Linked DNA regions of Homo sapiens: region 2 is linked to region 1. The links come from fine-mapping of genetic effects on gene expression. A gene starts in region 1. The other region holds a variant in brackets. All regions are shown on one strand. Distances are from middle to middle. Region 1 holds the start of ACTN2 (actinin alpha 2). Region 2 overlaps ACTN2 (actinin alpha 2).

Region 1 (8,706 bases):
TTATTGAATTTCAGGTATCCAAGGAATTTTCAGAGATCTTTCTGACTACTAACTTAATTCCATTGTTATCTGAGAACACTCACTTTATGATTGAATTTTTTAAATTTATTGAGAGTTGTTTTACAGCCCTGAAAATGACCTGTCTTGATTTTCATGCTGGTTCCCCATAACCTCCAAGTCCCATTGAGGTGACAGCAAAGGGCTCATAATGAAAGCCTGCACACACAGTGAGTCTCGTTATAGAAGAGGAACACTGAGCTTGTGCCGCAGGAACTTTTATAGCAACCAAAAGCAAGACATTTTTGCTTGGGAGTAGATCTTACTGCATTTGTCAAGGCTGCACATTGCAAACACAACCCTGAGAAATGGGCGGGGTAAAGAGCTGTCAGGGTCCTATCATTTCTGGCAGACCAGCAAGAATGTGCAGACATATTCAGGACAGATGGTGAATTGTTCTTTCAGCAAACTCACTGAAGCTCTTTTCATTCTTTTGGATTATTTTTTCTTTCTGTGTTTCATTTTGGGTTGTTTCTATTGCTATGCTTTCAAAGTTCACTAATCTCTTCTCCACTGTCTAATCTTCCCTTAATGCCATTCAGTGTATTCTACTTCTCAGACATTTTAGTTTTCATCTCTGGAAGTTTTATTTGAGTCTTTTAAAACGTATCTTTCATATCTGTATTTAAGTTTTTGAACATACAGAATACAGTCATAGAAACTGTTTTAATGTCCTTATCTGCTAACTTTAACATCTGTTAGTCCTAAGTCAGCTTCAATTGATTTATATTCTCATTATTATGGGTGTGTTTTCCGTCTCTTGGTATGTCTGGTAATCTTTTAACTTTAATTTTTTTATTTTTTGAGACAGAGTCTCACTGTATCACCCAGGCTGGAGTGCAGGGGCGTGATCTTAGCTCACTGTAGCCTCTGCCTCCTGGGTTCAAGTGATTCTCCTGCCTCGTCCTCCCAAGTAGCTGGGATTACAGGCACCCACCACCACACCCGGCTAATTTTTGTATTTTTGTAGAGACGGGGTTTCACCTTGTTGGTCAGGCTGGTCTCAAACTCCTGACCTCAGGTGATCCACCCGCCTCAGCCCCCCAAAATGCTGGGATTACAGGTGTGAGCTACCACGCCCCGCCATGCCTGGTAATCTTGTATTGAATGTCAGGTTTTGTGATGTTTTACCTTGTTGGGTGCTGGATATTTTTGTATGCCTATAAATATTCTTGAGCTTTGTTTTGTGATGCAGTTACTTGGAAATGGTTTTAATCTTTTGGGTCTTGTTTTTATGATTTGGTTAACCAGCTTAGAGCAGTGCTCTATTTAGGACTAATCATTCGGCACTGCTGAGGCAAGACCTTCCTAAGTATTCTACTCAGTGCTCTGTGAATGATCAGTTTTTTCCAGTCCTGCGGGTGGAAGGCAGTGGTTGTTTCAGGAAGAATTATCCCAGTTCCCCATACTCCACCTTCGCCACAAGTGGAAGTCCCCTTACTAACTTCTTGACTTTGTCTGTTACTTCTTAAAGTACTTTTTTTTTTTTTCCTGTTCTCCCACTTCAGAGACTCCAGTTACTTGGATACTAAGCTGCATGAAGGCTTCTCACAGCTCACAGATCCTCTGGTCATTTCTTATTTTATTTTATTTTTTTTGAGACGGAGTCTCACTTTGTTGCCCAGATTGCAGTGCAGTGGTGCGATCTCGGCTCACTGCAACCTCCACCTCCCGGTTCAAGCGATTCTCCTGCCTCAGCCTCCCGAGTAGCTGGGATTACAGGTGCCCACCACCGTGCCCGGCTATTTTTGTATTTTTAGTAGAGACGGGGTTTCACCCTGTTGGCCAGGCTGGTCTTGAACTCCTGCCTTCAGGTGATCCGCCCACCTTGGCCTCTCAAAGTGCTGGGATTACAGGCGTGAGCCACTGCGCCTGGCCGTGCTCATTTCTTAAACCTGTTTTCTCTCTGTGTGTTTCATACTGGATTTTTTTCTACTGCTATGCCTTCAAGTTCACTCATCTTTTCTAATGCAGTATCTATAGGCAAACGCGTTTAGTGTATTTTAAAATTTCAGATGTAGTTTTCATCTCTAGATATTAAATTTTTCATATCTCCTCTGTCTCTACTTGTCAGGTTCAATCTTTCCTCTAGCTTCTTAAATATATGGAATATAGCAATAATCACTCTTTTAATGTTCCTTTCTACTAATTCTATCATCTGTGTCAATTCTAGGTCAGTTTTGATTGATGGATTGTTCTCATTATGGATCATATGTGCCTGCTTCTTTGCACACCTGTGAAAAATTTGGTAATATTTCACAGGTGGCAGAAATTGCAAATTTTACCTTTGGGTAAAATTTGAGTGTTGAATGTTTTCATATTCCTATAGATATGTTTGAGCTTTGATCTGGGACATGGTTAAGTTACTTGGAAATTACGATTTTCAGGTCATGCTTTTCAGGTTTTGCAGGCAGGACAAGTACAATATTTCATCAGGAGCTAATTTCCCTCCAGGTTGGAGTACTCTGATGCTTTGTGGATTATAAGGTTTTCCACCCTGGCTGATGGAAACAGGAACTATTCCTGGCCCGTTATGAATTTAAGAATCATTCCTTCTATTCCTTTCGGGACCTTCTTTCCTTGGCCTCAGGCAGTTTCCTCTCATGTATTCACTGATCAGATTCCAGGGAACAGCAAATCTCCAGGATTCTCTCTCTTTGCAGCTCCATTTTCTGCTGTAATTGGCCTTGCAAATTCTAATGTTTGGTCTCTCTGAACTCTCAGTTTATGGAGACCAGTAAGCTGTGCCTGGGTACCTCTTTGTTGCATTGCATCTTGAAAGTTTTCTCCAGACTGTAAGCTGGGGCAATTGCAGTACTCACATCATTTATTTTCTGCCTCTGAGGGTTCATTGTCCCTCTTTGCCTGATGACTAATGTCTTGAAAACCATTGTTTTATGTGTTTTTTTCCCCAGGCTTTAGTTGTTTCAGGCAGGATGGTAAATCTGGCGCTGTTTTTTCCATCTCATGAAGTCCCCACGTTAATTTTTGAAAACTAAGTTGAACGATGTAGCACTTTTTGTAATTGTACATCCAATTTCTTTTCTTTTCTTTCTTTCTTTTTTTATTTTTTTTTGAGATGGAATTTTGCTCTTGTCGCCCAGGCTGGAGTACAGTGGCGCAATTTCTGCTCACTGCAACCTCCACCTCCTGAGTTCAAGCGATTCTCCTGCCTCAGCCTCCTGAGTAGCTGGGATTACAGGTGCATGCCACCACAGCCAGCTAATTTTTTTATTTTTATTTTTTTTAGTAGAGATGGGGTTTCATCATGTTGGCCAGGCTGGTCTTGAACTCCCAACCTCAGGTGATCTACCCACCTCGGCCTCCCAAAGTGTTGGGATTACAGGCCTGAGCCACTGTGCCCGGCCCAGTTTCTAATAGGTAAAATTTATTGATCCACTTGTTTCAAGAGTATGATTTTAATCCAAAATATAAACTCTAAATTTTAAATTTAAATCCAAGTAAATTAGCTCAGTCACTATTTCCAGGGATACTACTTCTCTCAACAAATGAGCACCACTGTGCGGTGGACACGCCTGTAGTTGCTGGGGTCTACAACTGTGGACGAGACAAAATCCCTGCGTTTGAGGAATTTACATCCTAGTGAGAATGTTTTTGAAAATGTTAATGTGGCGGGGCGTGGTGGCTCACACCTGTAATCCCCACTTTTGAAGGCTGAGGCAGGTGGATCACCTGAGGTTGGGAGTTCGAGACCAGCCTAACCAACATGGAAAAACCCCGTCTCTACTAAAAATACAAAATTAGCCGGGTGTGGTGGCACATGCCTGTAATCCCAGCTACTCCGGAGGCTGAGGCAGGAGAATCGCTTGAACCGGAGAGGTGGACGTTGCGGTGAGCCGAGATCGTGCTCTTGCACTCCAGCCTGGGCAACAAGAGTGAAGCTCCATCTCAAAACAAAACAAAACAAAACAAAGTTAATGCAACCTGTTTGCTAATTGTTATCTTTCTGCATAAAGCCCCAAACAGTAACGGTGAGTGATGTAAAAATTCTAAGGAACAATGATAAATCCAGACAAACTCAACTTGAAACATGTCCACAAATTAGTAGCCCTGAATCACAAAAAATTCTGTAGCATCTGTGGGCAACGTTTATTCAATTGAGATATAAACTGAATTGCAGGCAGGCATCCCATCAGCTCGTCTGGTGCCTAAGGCAACCTCTGGTTTACAGTAGTTGCTTAATACATATTTGATTTAAAAATTTCAGCCTACTTGTCCCAAGGGTCCTCATTTTGCTTCCTGCGGCAGCATAACTGATAGGGAACAGCTAGCCAGCACTAGGGGGATGAAAAGGCGTTAAGTGCAACCCACAGGGCGACATGGAAATATAACACGAAGCTGGCCGCTTGCCCTTCATTGTCAGCTCTCTTAAATTTATGCCCGGTAGGTGAGAGCTGACACTTCCTGCCTTTGGTTTGGTTCCTAACATTTTAATAGGATGGATCCAAATCCTGTGCCTTGATTTCCCCAGGTGAGGGTGAGGAGGAGAGAAAGAAGAGGGGGGTTCTGTAGCTTTTAAACTTTACTCCTTAGGGGCCTGTATGTATGTATGTGTGTGTGTGTGTGAGAGGGAGGAAGAGAAACAGAGAGAGAGAAGAGAGAGACAGAGATGAGAGAGGTATGAGAGACACAGGAGAGAGAGACAGATGAGAGAGAGAAAGAGAGACACGACAGAGAGAGAGAGACGAGAGAGAGAGAGACACGGGAGAGAGAGACAGAGGAGAGAAGAGGAGAGGAGAGAGACACGAGAGACAGATGAGAGACAGTGAGACACGAGAGAGAGAGAGAGATGAGAGGAGAGAGAGACATGTGAGAGAGACACAGGAGAGACAGAGATGAGAGAGAGATATGAGAGAGATCTATGAGAGAGAGACACTGGAGAAAGAGGGACAGAGATGAGAGAGAGACAGACGAGAGACAGACACAAGAGAGAGGGACCGATGAGCGGAAAGAGAGGCACGAGAGAGAGATGAGAGAGAGAGAAGAGGGGTCTCCAATGAATATGTGGGAATATATGGAAAACGCGAATATCCAAATGATATTTGGAAAACTTGGCTGTGTTGGGGTGGTCAGGGACCCAGCCTCTTAGGTGTCCCTCCCCTGGCTCGCGATCACCCACCCGGGACACCGACGGACCCCGCGCCGCTAACCAGCCGCTCTCAGAGCGTGGGTGGCAGGCGTGGCTCTGCTCGGGGCCGGCCGCTCCCCTCACGTTCCCGGAGGCCTCGGCGGAAGGCGTGCAGGCGGCCTCTGGGCGGCGGCTGCAGGGGAGACAGTGGAGGGGCCCGGCGCCCTTGTCCGCCCGCACGTGCTCGGGGCGGGGCGGCTGGGGCCCGACGGGCGGGGCCGGGGGCGGTGGCGGCGGGGGCGTGGCCGGGCGGCCACGTGACGGGCGGCGCGGCTATTAAGCCGCGCGGCAGCTGCTCGCAGCCGGAGCTGGTGCTTCGCCCGAGACCCAGCGCCCAGGCGTGTCGCCCCGAGAGGAGCCGCGCGAAGGTCACCCCGCGCCCGCCGCCCGCCGCCCGCCGCCTCCGTGGGTCCGTTTGCCAGTCAGCCCGTGCGTCCGAGCCCCTCGCGCCCCGCCGCAGCCCCGGCCAACCGAGCGCCATGAACCAGATAGAGCCCGGCGTGCAGTACAACTACGTGTACGACGAGGATGAGTACATGATCCAGGAGGAGGAGTGGGACCGCGACCTGCTCCTGGACCCAGCCTGGGAGAAGCAGCAGAGGAAGGTCAGCAGGGGCCCGCGGGCCGCCCGCGCGTGGTGGGGCCGGGTCCCCCGCGGGGCTCCCGTGCGCGTGGCCGCGTGGCCTGGCGACTGGCGAGAGGGCGCTTTGTGGAGGTGCTGTGCTGTCCTGTGCCCTCGCAGCCCCGGGGGCCCCTTAGGAAAGAGGACACGTCCGGGGACAGGCAGGACACTGGGCGTCGTGTGTGTGCGCGCGCGCTAGCAGCATCGGAGGTACAGATGTGGTTCTGTTCCTCACACCAACCCGCGTTAGACCAGATCTGAAGGGGTCTCTGGTCTGCTCCTGACCCCTTGAGTCTGTGACCTTGGCCCCCGAGTTATACTCTCCTGGCCCGCTTGTGTCCATTTACCCCAGCCTCTCTCTTCCCCATTGAAAGAAGCAAAAGAACATCAGCTTCATTGCAATTTCCACCGGGCTGCCCCTAGAGTCATGGAAAGTCATTTATTCAATCTTTTGGGTTCCTTGGAGAGGGATGTTGTATGAACACTAGACATTTACCGATAGTGACAATTATTTCACACTCTATTTATAATTCATTGAGGTAAGCACACAGGGACGAAGGAGTCAGCCAGCTTCTAAAAGCTCCCTCCCCATTTTGATTGGCGTTCTCTGGGGGCCCAGTGGAACATTCCACTTTTTCAAGGTTTCCTCTTGATCCTCTTGGCTGGAATAAATAGGGAATGCTCACCAGGAGGCTTAATCCCGCCTCTTACTTGACTAGGCAGGGAGCCTGGTTGGGTCAGACATGACAACAGAGACCTGCCAACCCAACCTTAAGATAACGGGGTTATGGCAAAAGCCAAACGCTCTGAACTTTTTTCCGCCTATTTTTCTGGGCGTGGGGCAAGATAGATTTCCCTTCTAAGGACCTGCTTTAGGTGGATAGCCTGTGGTGACCATAGTGTGTATGGGAATCTCTGTATAATGGGTACTGTAGCTGATTGTGCGATAGTATTTGGTGAATAGGGGTATGATGGTGGAGAACACACATCCCAAACTCCTCTCGCAGCAAACAGCGTTAGCTGGAAGGAGAGATGATTATCAAATAACCAAGCACTATTTTTATATCAGGATGTCTCTTGTCTACCCTCTCTCCTAAAATACCATTTACTATTATTATTTTAAAGCTCTAATTTAGCTACATTTCAGTCTCTCCCCGAGTTTCTTAAGGCTTTTACCATCCCTACCTTTCTTAGAAAATGGGAGTAATAAATAGAAAAAAACAAAACTTCAAGCCGTCTACTATTGTTTAAAGGACTGATTGTGAAGGAAGTACGAGGCATGAGGATTACTAATGTGTCATCTGGACCAGCTGATGCATCATCCATCAGCACGAAGTTAAAAAGTGACTTTAATTTTTAGCAGTGAGTGTTTTTTTTTAAAAGAATTTCCCCAAATTTTGATTACTGCACTTTTCATGGATTAAAAAAAAAGATAACTCCCGGGTCTTTGTTTTAAAAATTGCTTTCTTATGAGGAATTGTAAAATAGCTAAGGAATTGGACAGGTAGTCTGCCCATCATTTTTGAAAGTGATGGTCTAATCACAGTGCTTTCTGTTGCCTTTTTTTTTTTTAAGTACAGTACAGTAGCAGGATAGAGGTAATGACAGTTTCCAGAGGCCACATTGACATCCCTTCTGCCATATTTAATCTTTTAACTTATTTGCAGTATTTTTGGATATATGGCTTCGAATTCTTTTAGGTTTGGGATTCCTATGTTGACTGTATTATTATAATTGCATAGCACTTGAAGTAAAGTTGATTATTTAAAAATAACATACTTCCTGATCCCAGTCCAAAATAATGTTAGAAAGTTTAAGGTGAGAATTTTTTTTAAGATAGTTTGAATGTTGTACATGCTTGGGGGGCAAAAACTACATTAGGAGAGATCTAGAAGATTCTCTATTTCTACTTTTGGTATAGACCCTGCTCAAGTCAGTAAAATAATATTGAACTGTGAGCTCAGTGTGGCCAGAGCAGTGGCCTCTATTTATGTCCCATGAGACAAACTGCTGGAACCGGACAAGGGTAAAATACCATTGTTTCTATTGTGGGCTGCCTTCTCCACACTTGCCATTTCAGTGATATGCTGGGTATGAGATCTGTCAACAGATGCTGGTAGCACATGATGACGTCCGTGGCGTTATAATGGATGTGATGCCTAATTATATCTACAGTTCAGAGAGTCTCATGGGCTATGGTAATCCTTGCTCTGTGGTGTGGAAGGAAAGCCTTGCTGTAGAAGGACTTTATAAAAGTGTAATGAGTTTTATAAGAGAAGGGAATGCAGAAGATAGTGGGTTTAGCATGAGTGCGAATAGGCGTTTCAACGTGTCTACCTTCTCTTTCAAGAGTGTGTTAGGAAGAGTGTGTTACACAGAAGAGTGTGTTAATAGGGTTAGGAATATTTATATTTTCTATAAAGAAGTATTTTAATTCATACAACTCAAGGGTAGAAGAAAAATGCCTGCAGTATTACAGATGTGATATATATATATATATATATATATATATATATATATATACACACACATATGTATATTTTATATATATATATAAAATATGTAATGTTTAGAGACAGGATTTTTCTCTGTTGCCCAGGCTGGAGTACAGTGGCATGATAATAGCTCACTGTAGCCTTGACCTCCTGGGCTCAAGTGACCTCCATGACGTCAAGGCATGCACCACCACACATGGCTAATTTTTTTATTTTAAAAACTTTTTTTGTAGAGACAGGGTCTCACTGTGTTGCCCAGGCTGGTCTTGAACTCCTGGCCATTCTCCCACCTTGGCTTCTTAAAGTGCTGATACTAAGGATATGAGCCACGATGCTCAGCCCCAGATACAATATTTTAAGACACTGAAATGCTGAGACACACT
Region 2 (8,000 bases), 33 kb after region 1:
GAGACTGATAGCTTCATTCCTCACTGTGTGTTTATGTATACACAGATACCACTGAAGGGATATGCAAGAGACTGATAGCTTCATTCCTCACTGTGTGTTTATGTATACACAGATACCACTGAAGGGATATGCAAGAGACTGATAGCTTCATTCCTCACTGTGTGTTTATGTATACACAGATACCACTGAAGGGATATGCAAGAGACTGATAGCTTCATTCCTCACTGTGTGTTTATGTATACACAGATACCACTGAAGGGATATGCAAGAGACTGATAGCTTCATTCCTCACTGTGTGTTTATGTATACACAGATACCACTGAAGGGATATGCAAGAGACTGATAGCTTCATTCCTCACTGTGTGTTTATGTATACACAGATACCACTGAAGGGATATGCAAGAGACTGATAGCTTCATTCCTCACTGTGTGTTTATGTATACACAGATACCACTGAAGGGATATGCAAGAGACTGATAGCTTCATTCCTCACTGTGTGTTTATGTATACACAGATACCACTGAAGGGATATGCAAGAGACTGATAGCTTCATTCCTCACTGTGTGTTTATGTATACACAGATACCACTGAAGGGATATGCAAGAGACTGATAGCTTCATTCCTTATGGGGTAGGGCATTGGGTAGCCAAGGAACAAAGGTGAGAGGATGGATTTTTCTTTGAACCCTTTCGTACCACTTGAATTTCTTTTTCCTTTTTTTTTTTTTTATTCTACTTTAAGGTTTAGGGTACATGTGCACAACGTGTAGGTTTGTTACATATGTATACATGTGCCATGTTGGTGTGCTGCACCTATTAACTCGTCATTTAACATTAGGTATCTCTCCTAATCCTATCCCTCCCCCCTCCCCCCACCCTGTTACCACTTGAAGTTTTATACCAAAGAAACCTATTACTCATTCAAAAAATAAATACATAAAATTAATATGTTAAAAAATAAGTAATGAATTCTTATCATAATCTTACCTTCAAAAAACAAAACTTAATTATCTATAGTGTTGTCCAGTAGAATTTTCTGTGATGATAGGAATGTTGTATATTTGCACCATCCAATACTACTAGCCATATGTGGCTTTTGATCACTTAAAACATGACTTGTGCAACTGAGGAGCTAATTTTTAAATTTTATTTTAATTAGTCTAAGTTTAAGTGGCTACTTCTGGCTAGGAGCTACCACACTGATTGGGTATAGATCTAAAGTATATGGCTTAAGACCGAGTGTGGTGGCTCATGCCTGTAATCCCAGCACTTTGAGAGGCCGAGGCAGATGGATCACCTGAAGTCAGGAGTTTAAGACCAGTCTGGCCAACATGGCAAAACCCCGTCTCTACTAAAAATACAAAAATCAGCTAGGTGTGGTGGCAGGCACCTGTATTCCTAGCTACTAGGGTGGTTGAGGCGGGAGAATCACTTGAACTCGGGAGGCGGAGATTGCGGTGAGCTGAGATCATGCCACTGCACTCCAGCCTGGAAGCAAGACTCCGTCTCAAAAAATAAAAATAAAAAATAAAAATAAATAAAGTGGATGGCTTAGAGTATCTTTTCTGTTTAGACCTGACTAAAGCTTAGACATAATTGTTAGTTTAGGCTCTCAGGGTAAAATTTATTACTGTAAATCCAAAAAATCCCTTCTTCTTCTTTTTTTTTTTTTTTTTGGTCCTTGAATTAAATGCTGTCACCTCCTTCTTGAAAGGAGAAACTATTAGTCAGATTTGAAAATCCTCTTTATCACCCAGGAAAATCATTTTTATGGACACTTTGTCTTTCTGTAGTCTGACTTAGAAGCAGCCTGTTTTTGATAGGTTGAAGTTTTCATCTTGAACACAAACCCTGTTTGTGTGTCCCCTACTCCCCAGTTTGATGTGCCAGGCACTTTGTTCTCAAGCCCAGCAGCTGTTGTGGGATGAGGGGACATTTTGCATGCTTAGCCAGCAGCTGCCAGAAACATTTCTAATCTGGTTTTGGCAGGAAATAGGGCACAAGTGGAAGCCAAGTTAAAAGAAGCTGGAAAAATAAACAGAATAACTTTAGATGTCACTTAATATATGGTCCATTTTCAGCCGAAGATTTGCCCTAGTAATTTGTTAATATGACTGGACTGTGATCCCTTCCAAAGGCAGGGTTGAATATAGTCACCTTTGAGATCCAGGATGTAGTCCAGTGCTTGGAATATGCTTGTAGGAGGTTATTGTTATTATTTTTTCAATGATAGACTATACTGCAAATTTGTTTAATTGATTTAATTAGTAGCTTAAAACTGTTGTTCACCCGAGATAAACTAGTTCTAGGTTATCACTGGTTATGGGTCCCTTCTCTCTTCTTTCTGCTACACAATATCACCCACCCTCTCCTCTAAAGCAACACATTTTGAACATTTTTTTTTTTTTTTTTGAGACAGAGTCTCACTCTGTCACCCAGACTGGAGTGCAGTAGTATGATCTTGGCTTGCTGCAACCTCCGCCTCCTGGTTTCAAGCTACTTCCCTGCCTGAGCCTCTTGAGTAGCTGGGACTACAGGCACACGTTACCACACCCAGCTAATTTTTGTATTTTTAGTAGAGACGGGGTTTTACCATGTTGGTCAGGCTGGTCTCGAACTCCTGACCTCAAGTGATCTGCCCTGCCTCAGCCTCCCAAAGTGCTGGGATTACAGGTGTGAGTCATCACACCTGGCCTTTGAACATTCTTCAAACATTATTTAGACTGGGCATGGTGGCTCATGCCTGTAATCCCAGCACTTTGGGAGGCTGAGGCAAGAGGATTGCTTGAGTCTAGGAGTTTGAGACCAGCCTGGGCAACATAGCAAGACCCCATCTCTAAAAAAAAATTAGCTAGGTGTGGTCGTGCATGCCTATAGTCCCAGCTACTTAGGGGGCTGAGGCAGGAGGATCAGTTGAGCCTGGGAGGTTGAGGCTGCAGTGAGCCATGATCACACCACTGTTCTCCAGCCTGGGTGACAGAGCTGGATGACCCTGTCTCCAAAACAAAACAAAACACTGTTATTTATTCATCTATTCTGCTGCAAGCAAGCATATTTTGCATATTTGTGAGCAAGAAATAAGCACATCTTAATTTAATCTATCTTTTCTACAAAGTAAAAGGGTTTCAAAAGGTGAAGATACAGGTATAAATGTGGTGTCTTTTTAAATGGAAGGCAAAAATTCTTCAGGTTGGAATATCCAATAAGAGAGTCTTTATCTCTAAAGTGGAAAATTTACTAAAATCGTTCTTTTGGGTTTCCAGTTCTTCTTTCCATCAAATTCTGCATCCTCTAGAAGCCCAAGCAGCCCCAGCCTTGTAGATTCCCAAGAACGTGTAAGGTGTCAAGTGTCGTCTGTGAGGAAGGGATCTGAAATCCGATGGACCTGTGCTAAACCGTGTTTGGTTTTCTTTGCAGACCTTCACTGCCTGGTGTAACTCCCACCTAAGGAAAGCCGGCACCCAGATTGAGAACATCGAGGAAGACTTCAGGAATGGCCTTAAGCTCATGCTGCTTTTGGAAGTCATCTCAGGTTGGTGTTATATATCCCATCCTATGCTTTCATGTGTTATCAGTAGGTGAGCATCTATTTAAAGATGACTACATCAGAAGTTCGCTTTGAACTTGGCTGGGCAAGAACATGGTATTATTGCCAAAGAAAA[C/T]CTTTCCAAAGAACAATCTGCCTGGAGTTATTTTTCCGTTCTAAAAAAAGGAGTGAATTCTCTTTAAAAATCACTTATTAAAATAATGTTTATACCACCAAGCTTGAAACAAAATAAGAGAAGAAAAAATGACTTCACACGACTCCCTCCATGCTGCCCTTTCTACTCTTCGTCCAGCTAGAGTGTATTCCAGAAATCATCTTGTATCCAAAAATCTACTGTACATGTTGGCAGAACTCTGAACATATAAGCTAAAATCCCAGTGGGGCTATGATTTGTCCTGAATTTCAGTTGGCTGATTTAGACTTTGGACTAGAGAATGGATCACCTTTGGAGAAGTGTGACTGGGAAGGATTATGGCAGATCTGCCCTGATCCATCTGTCTTCATAATCAGGTGTCGAACGAGCCCTGGCAGCCACCTCTGTGATTTTAACTGGCCATCCTGACTTCCTCTAACCGTTAGCCAGCAACTCTGAATACTCCAGGGACTCTAACCAGCTTCTCTTTTTACTCATTTGTAAGTTGGATCATGGGCCAAACCAGACTCTCCCTGCAGATCTGAAAAGCATGTGTCCTTCATAGTATGGCTCCCTGCTGGTCCATTTGATTCTGAAAGTTTCTGGGTTAGTGTTCCCTCATTGCTGTGATTTAGAGAGACCAGGCACACATCAGAAATAGTCATGTAACCTTCTCTTTTTAAGGAAAAGATGGATGCTTAGTTTTGGCATCTTGATTCCGCATCAAGAGGTCACTGTCTCTATGTCTGCATGATTCTCTTTTCATCCAACAGGGGAAAGGCTGCCCAAACCTGACCGGGGAAAAATGCGGTTCCACAAAATTGCTAATGTCAACAAAGCTTTGGATTACATAGCCAGCAAAGGGGTGAAACTGGTGTCCATTGGCGCTGAAGGTGAGAGGTGTGGTGGGTGGTCCTGTCTGCCACACTGACCTAATAGCGTAGGTGTGGGCTGCGACTTGAATTCTCCCCTTCTTCCCTCCCTTTCACCATTTACTGTACCTGCCTTGTATCAGGCTCTCTCTTAGGGCGCTCGGTGCACAAAGATAAGAACAAATGGTACCATGAGTGGGAGACCAAGCTCTAGGTTCTTTGTAAAGCATAGAATTAAATATAATGCTGTCATCTTCAGAAGACTTAAAGGACTGAGAAAGAACTTACACATCCCAATGACTCTTAATAAGAACTAACTAATAGGAAGGAAGTGGCCTCTTTGTTCTCTATGGGAGACTGGGAATTTGGTGAGGTCAGCGGGAGCTGAGATTTCCACCCATATCTCTGTATGCACAACTGAGTCCTGCTACTTGTCAGCTGCGGAATGCCGTAAGAAGGGTCAGGGTAAAGATGAGACTGTGTTCTCTTTATTTGATTATTTAAAACTTTAGCTCATGGCTGGGCACAGTGGCTCATGCTCATCCCAGCACTTTGAGAGGCTGAGGCGGGTAGATCACCTGAGGTGAGGAGTTCAAGACCAGCCTGGCCAACGTGGTGAAACCCCATCTCTACTAAATTTACAAAAAATTAGCTGGGTGTGGTGGCGCATGCCTGTAGTCCTTGTAGTCCCAGCTACTCAGGAGGTTGAGGCAGGAGAATTGCTTGATCCCAGGAGGCGGAGGTTGCAGTGAGCCACGGTTGTGTCACTGCACTGCGGCCTGGGCGACAGAGTGAGACTCCATCTCAAAAAAAAAAAAAAACCTTAGCTATTACATCTTAAAACTTTGGAAACTCCCGGGTGGTTTTCACTGATAATACATATGCAAGATTTGTGCTTATTATTAACTTAGAATTTATTTAAACTAGAGACATTTGGTTATGAATACTGTATTTATAACCAGACATACTGCGGTGCTTATAAAAACATAAACTGGTCTTTCCATCCATATGCACATTTTCCAATAGCTCTGAAGTCAACATTTATATATAGGAAAAAAGTTACGTACAGACTATGTTATCTTTACATTAATTTGTTGTTTTCTTACCTGCAGAAATTGTTGATGGCAACGTGAAAATGACCCTGGGTATGATCTGGACCATCATCCTTCGCTTTGCTATTCAGGATATTTCGGTTGAAGGTAAAAGACATGGTTAAAAGTCTAATTGTATAATCTGTAAATTGAGCTTGTGAATTAAAATTTGAGCAAGATGTTTTAAAGTCCAACAGTCACTTACATGATTGAATGAGAGACATGTAAGTGGGTTCTTATAAATTTTGTATGTGTATAGGAAAAGACCTCGGCAGCACTGTTTCATTCATGGGGGTGGAATCGGTTTGCAAAAGATGAGCACATGTTCAGAACAGAAGTCGCTTTTTAAAATGAGCATTTATTGAGCTTCTTGATTGCTTATTATACTAGTAAATTTACAGCTATGGCAGAGTTCTTTAGTCTTACAACTGAAACACTTTCTTTCCCCCTGGTATAAAAAAAGAATCTGTTGCAACCCATGTTTGTTATTTCCTTAACTTTCTTCCTCCCTATCTCTCTCCCTCTCTTTTTCTTTTTTCTTCTTTTTCTTTTTAAACAAGACCTCTATTGTCACTGTATCTTTTGGCCTAACTACTGTTTCATCATTATCATAGAATCTTAATCCTTGACACTGCCACTGAAGATAAAAATCTTTAGTCTTTTACACCAACTACACTCCCAAATATTTTGATGAATTCAGCACTGTTGAAAAGTGTCAAATTGGCATTCTTAAAATTGGAACTTTGCCTGTTTGGCCCTCAAATCACAAAGTGTATAACTGCAGAATGTGTTTCAGGGCTGCTGCATTGTCCAACTATTTGGCCCCTTCTGACTCTGTAATCCAGTAGGTAACCAGGTACCTGAGTGGTAAGGGGTGGAGACGTTATTTATAATTCTGCCCAGGCCACAGTAGCCTCTGACTCTGGTTTTTGTTTTTTGTTTTTTTTTTTTTTTTTTTTTTTGAGACGGAGTCTCACTCTGGCACCCAGGCTGGAGTTCAGTGGCGCGATCTTGGCTCACTGCAAGCTCTGCCTCCTGGGTCCACGCCATTCTCCTGCCTCAGCCTCACGAGTAGCTGGGACTACAGGCGCCCACCACCATGCTGGCTAATTTTTCATATTTTTAGTAGAGACGGGGTTTCACTGTGTTAGCCAGGATGGTCTCGATCTCCTGAGCTCGTGATCCGCCCGCCTCAGCCTCCCAAAGTGCTGGGATTACAGGCATGAGACTCTGGTCTTTTTAAGTGATTTTAGGTACTCATCAACCAACAAACATTAAGAAACAACACTTTGCCTACTTGTACCAGCTGACATGAAGCCTGCAGTACTTGCCCTTATGGACCTTCAAACTCACTTCAATTATTCCCTTCTGGCACCGGAGACCGACTTATGTCATCTAAAAGTCAAACTAAAATCTAATGGCATTAAAACAATTCAAGCTCAGGAATGACAGCCAGCTTGAATTAATACATAGTCTGACTTTGAAAACTTTTGTACAATATAGTTCTATTACAGTACCTTCCTTTATGCTAATGAAAGAAACAAGAGGCTTCCTAAAATTCTTGCTTTATTTAAAAATTGTAAGTTGTAATAATTTTATCAGTTTTTATATACTTCTAAATTTAAATATTTAAACTGTTGAACCCACTTTAAATAAATACTACTTTTAGAAATCTTGGTCACACTGTTGCTGGTCTAGCAAATCCTTTTTCCACAAATATTACAGAGGTGAAGTTGACCTCAAGTTGTTTCTGATTGGTTACAAATTTTAAATTAGTGATAATATGAATTCAAACTTAATTATATTTCAAGTGTAGGTATGAATGGTATTATCCATTAGAGTTTTCCCCAAAATTGTTATTAACATGCCCAAAGCAAGATAGCTAAATCACAATATTTTGTAAAATTTTGCGATAAAAGGCTATATTAATCTGCTCTTCACAAGACTAAGAAATTAAACATTAAAAAATTATAATTTTATTAGGAAAGTACCTACTAGATCTCTTCAAGCAGATGGTTCTGCAGTGTCCAACACAGTAGATACTGTCAGTTTGCTAATTTATATTTTTATTTGTTTTAGTTTCATGGAGTAATTGTTTAACAACCTCATTTAACTTCTGTAAGTCTACAGAAAAATCATCTTTATTTGTTTTAATGATGTGTGGTATGTTGAAAAATTCATTGTTATTAGAATCAAAGAAACAATTCTTTGAGGAGTGAGTTTCCTTCAGCAAAATGATGGGCCTCTTCCAAGAAAGAAAATGAGAGATTAGGCCGGGCGCGGTGGCTCACGCCTGTAACCCCAGCACTTTGGGAGGCCAAGGTGAGTGGATCATGAGGTCAGCAGTTCGAGACCAGC

What was found. PIP is the estimated chance that this variant, and not a neighbour inherited with it, causes the effect.
Region 2: its variant is the best candidate, but not a certain one, in a credible set for the expression of ACTN2 in lung (TOPMed, PIP 0.72).

Annotation. Positions count from the first base shown.
Region 1 is chr1:236,680,989-236,689,694 of GRCh38, forward strand. It overlaps ACTN2 (actinin alpha 2), which reads left to right and starts at 5,511. Exons shown (of 21, transcript NM_001103.4): 1 at 5,511-5,811. The coding sequence starts at 5,686. RefSeq lists a silencer at 5,367-5,456 and an enhancer at 7,095-8,706.
Region 2 is chr1:236,714,442-236,722,441 of GRCh38, forward strand. It overlaps ACTN2 (actinin alpha 2), which reads left to right. Exons shown (of 21, transcript NM_001103.4): 2 at 3,417-3,531; 3 at 4,453-4,572; 4 at 5,664-5,750. Among named protein-coding and RNA genes, the nearest start is that of ACTN2, 32 kb to the left of the region's middle. The variant C/T (reference allele first, on the strand shown) is at 3,662.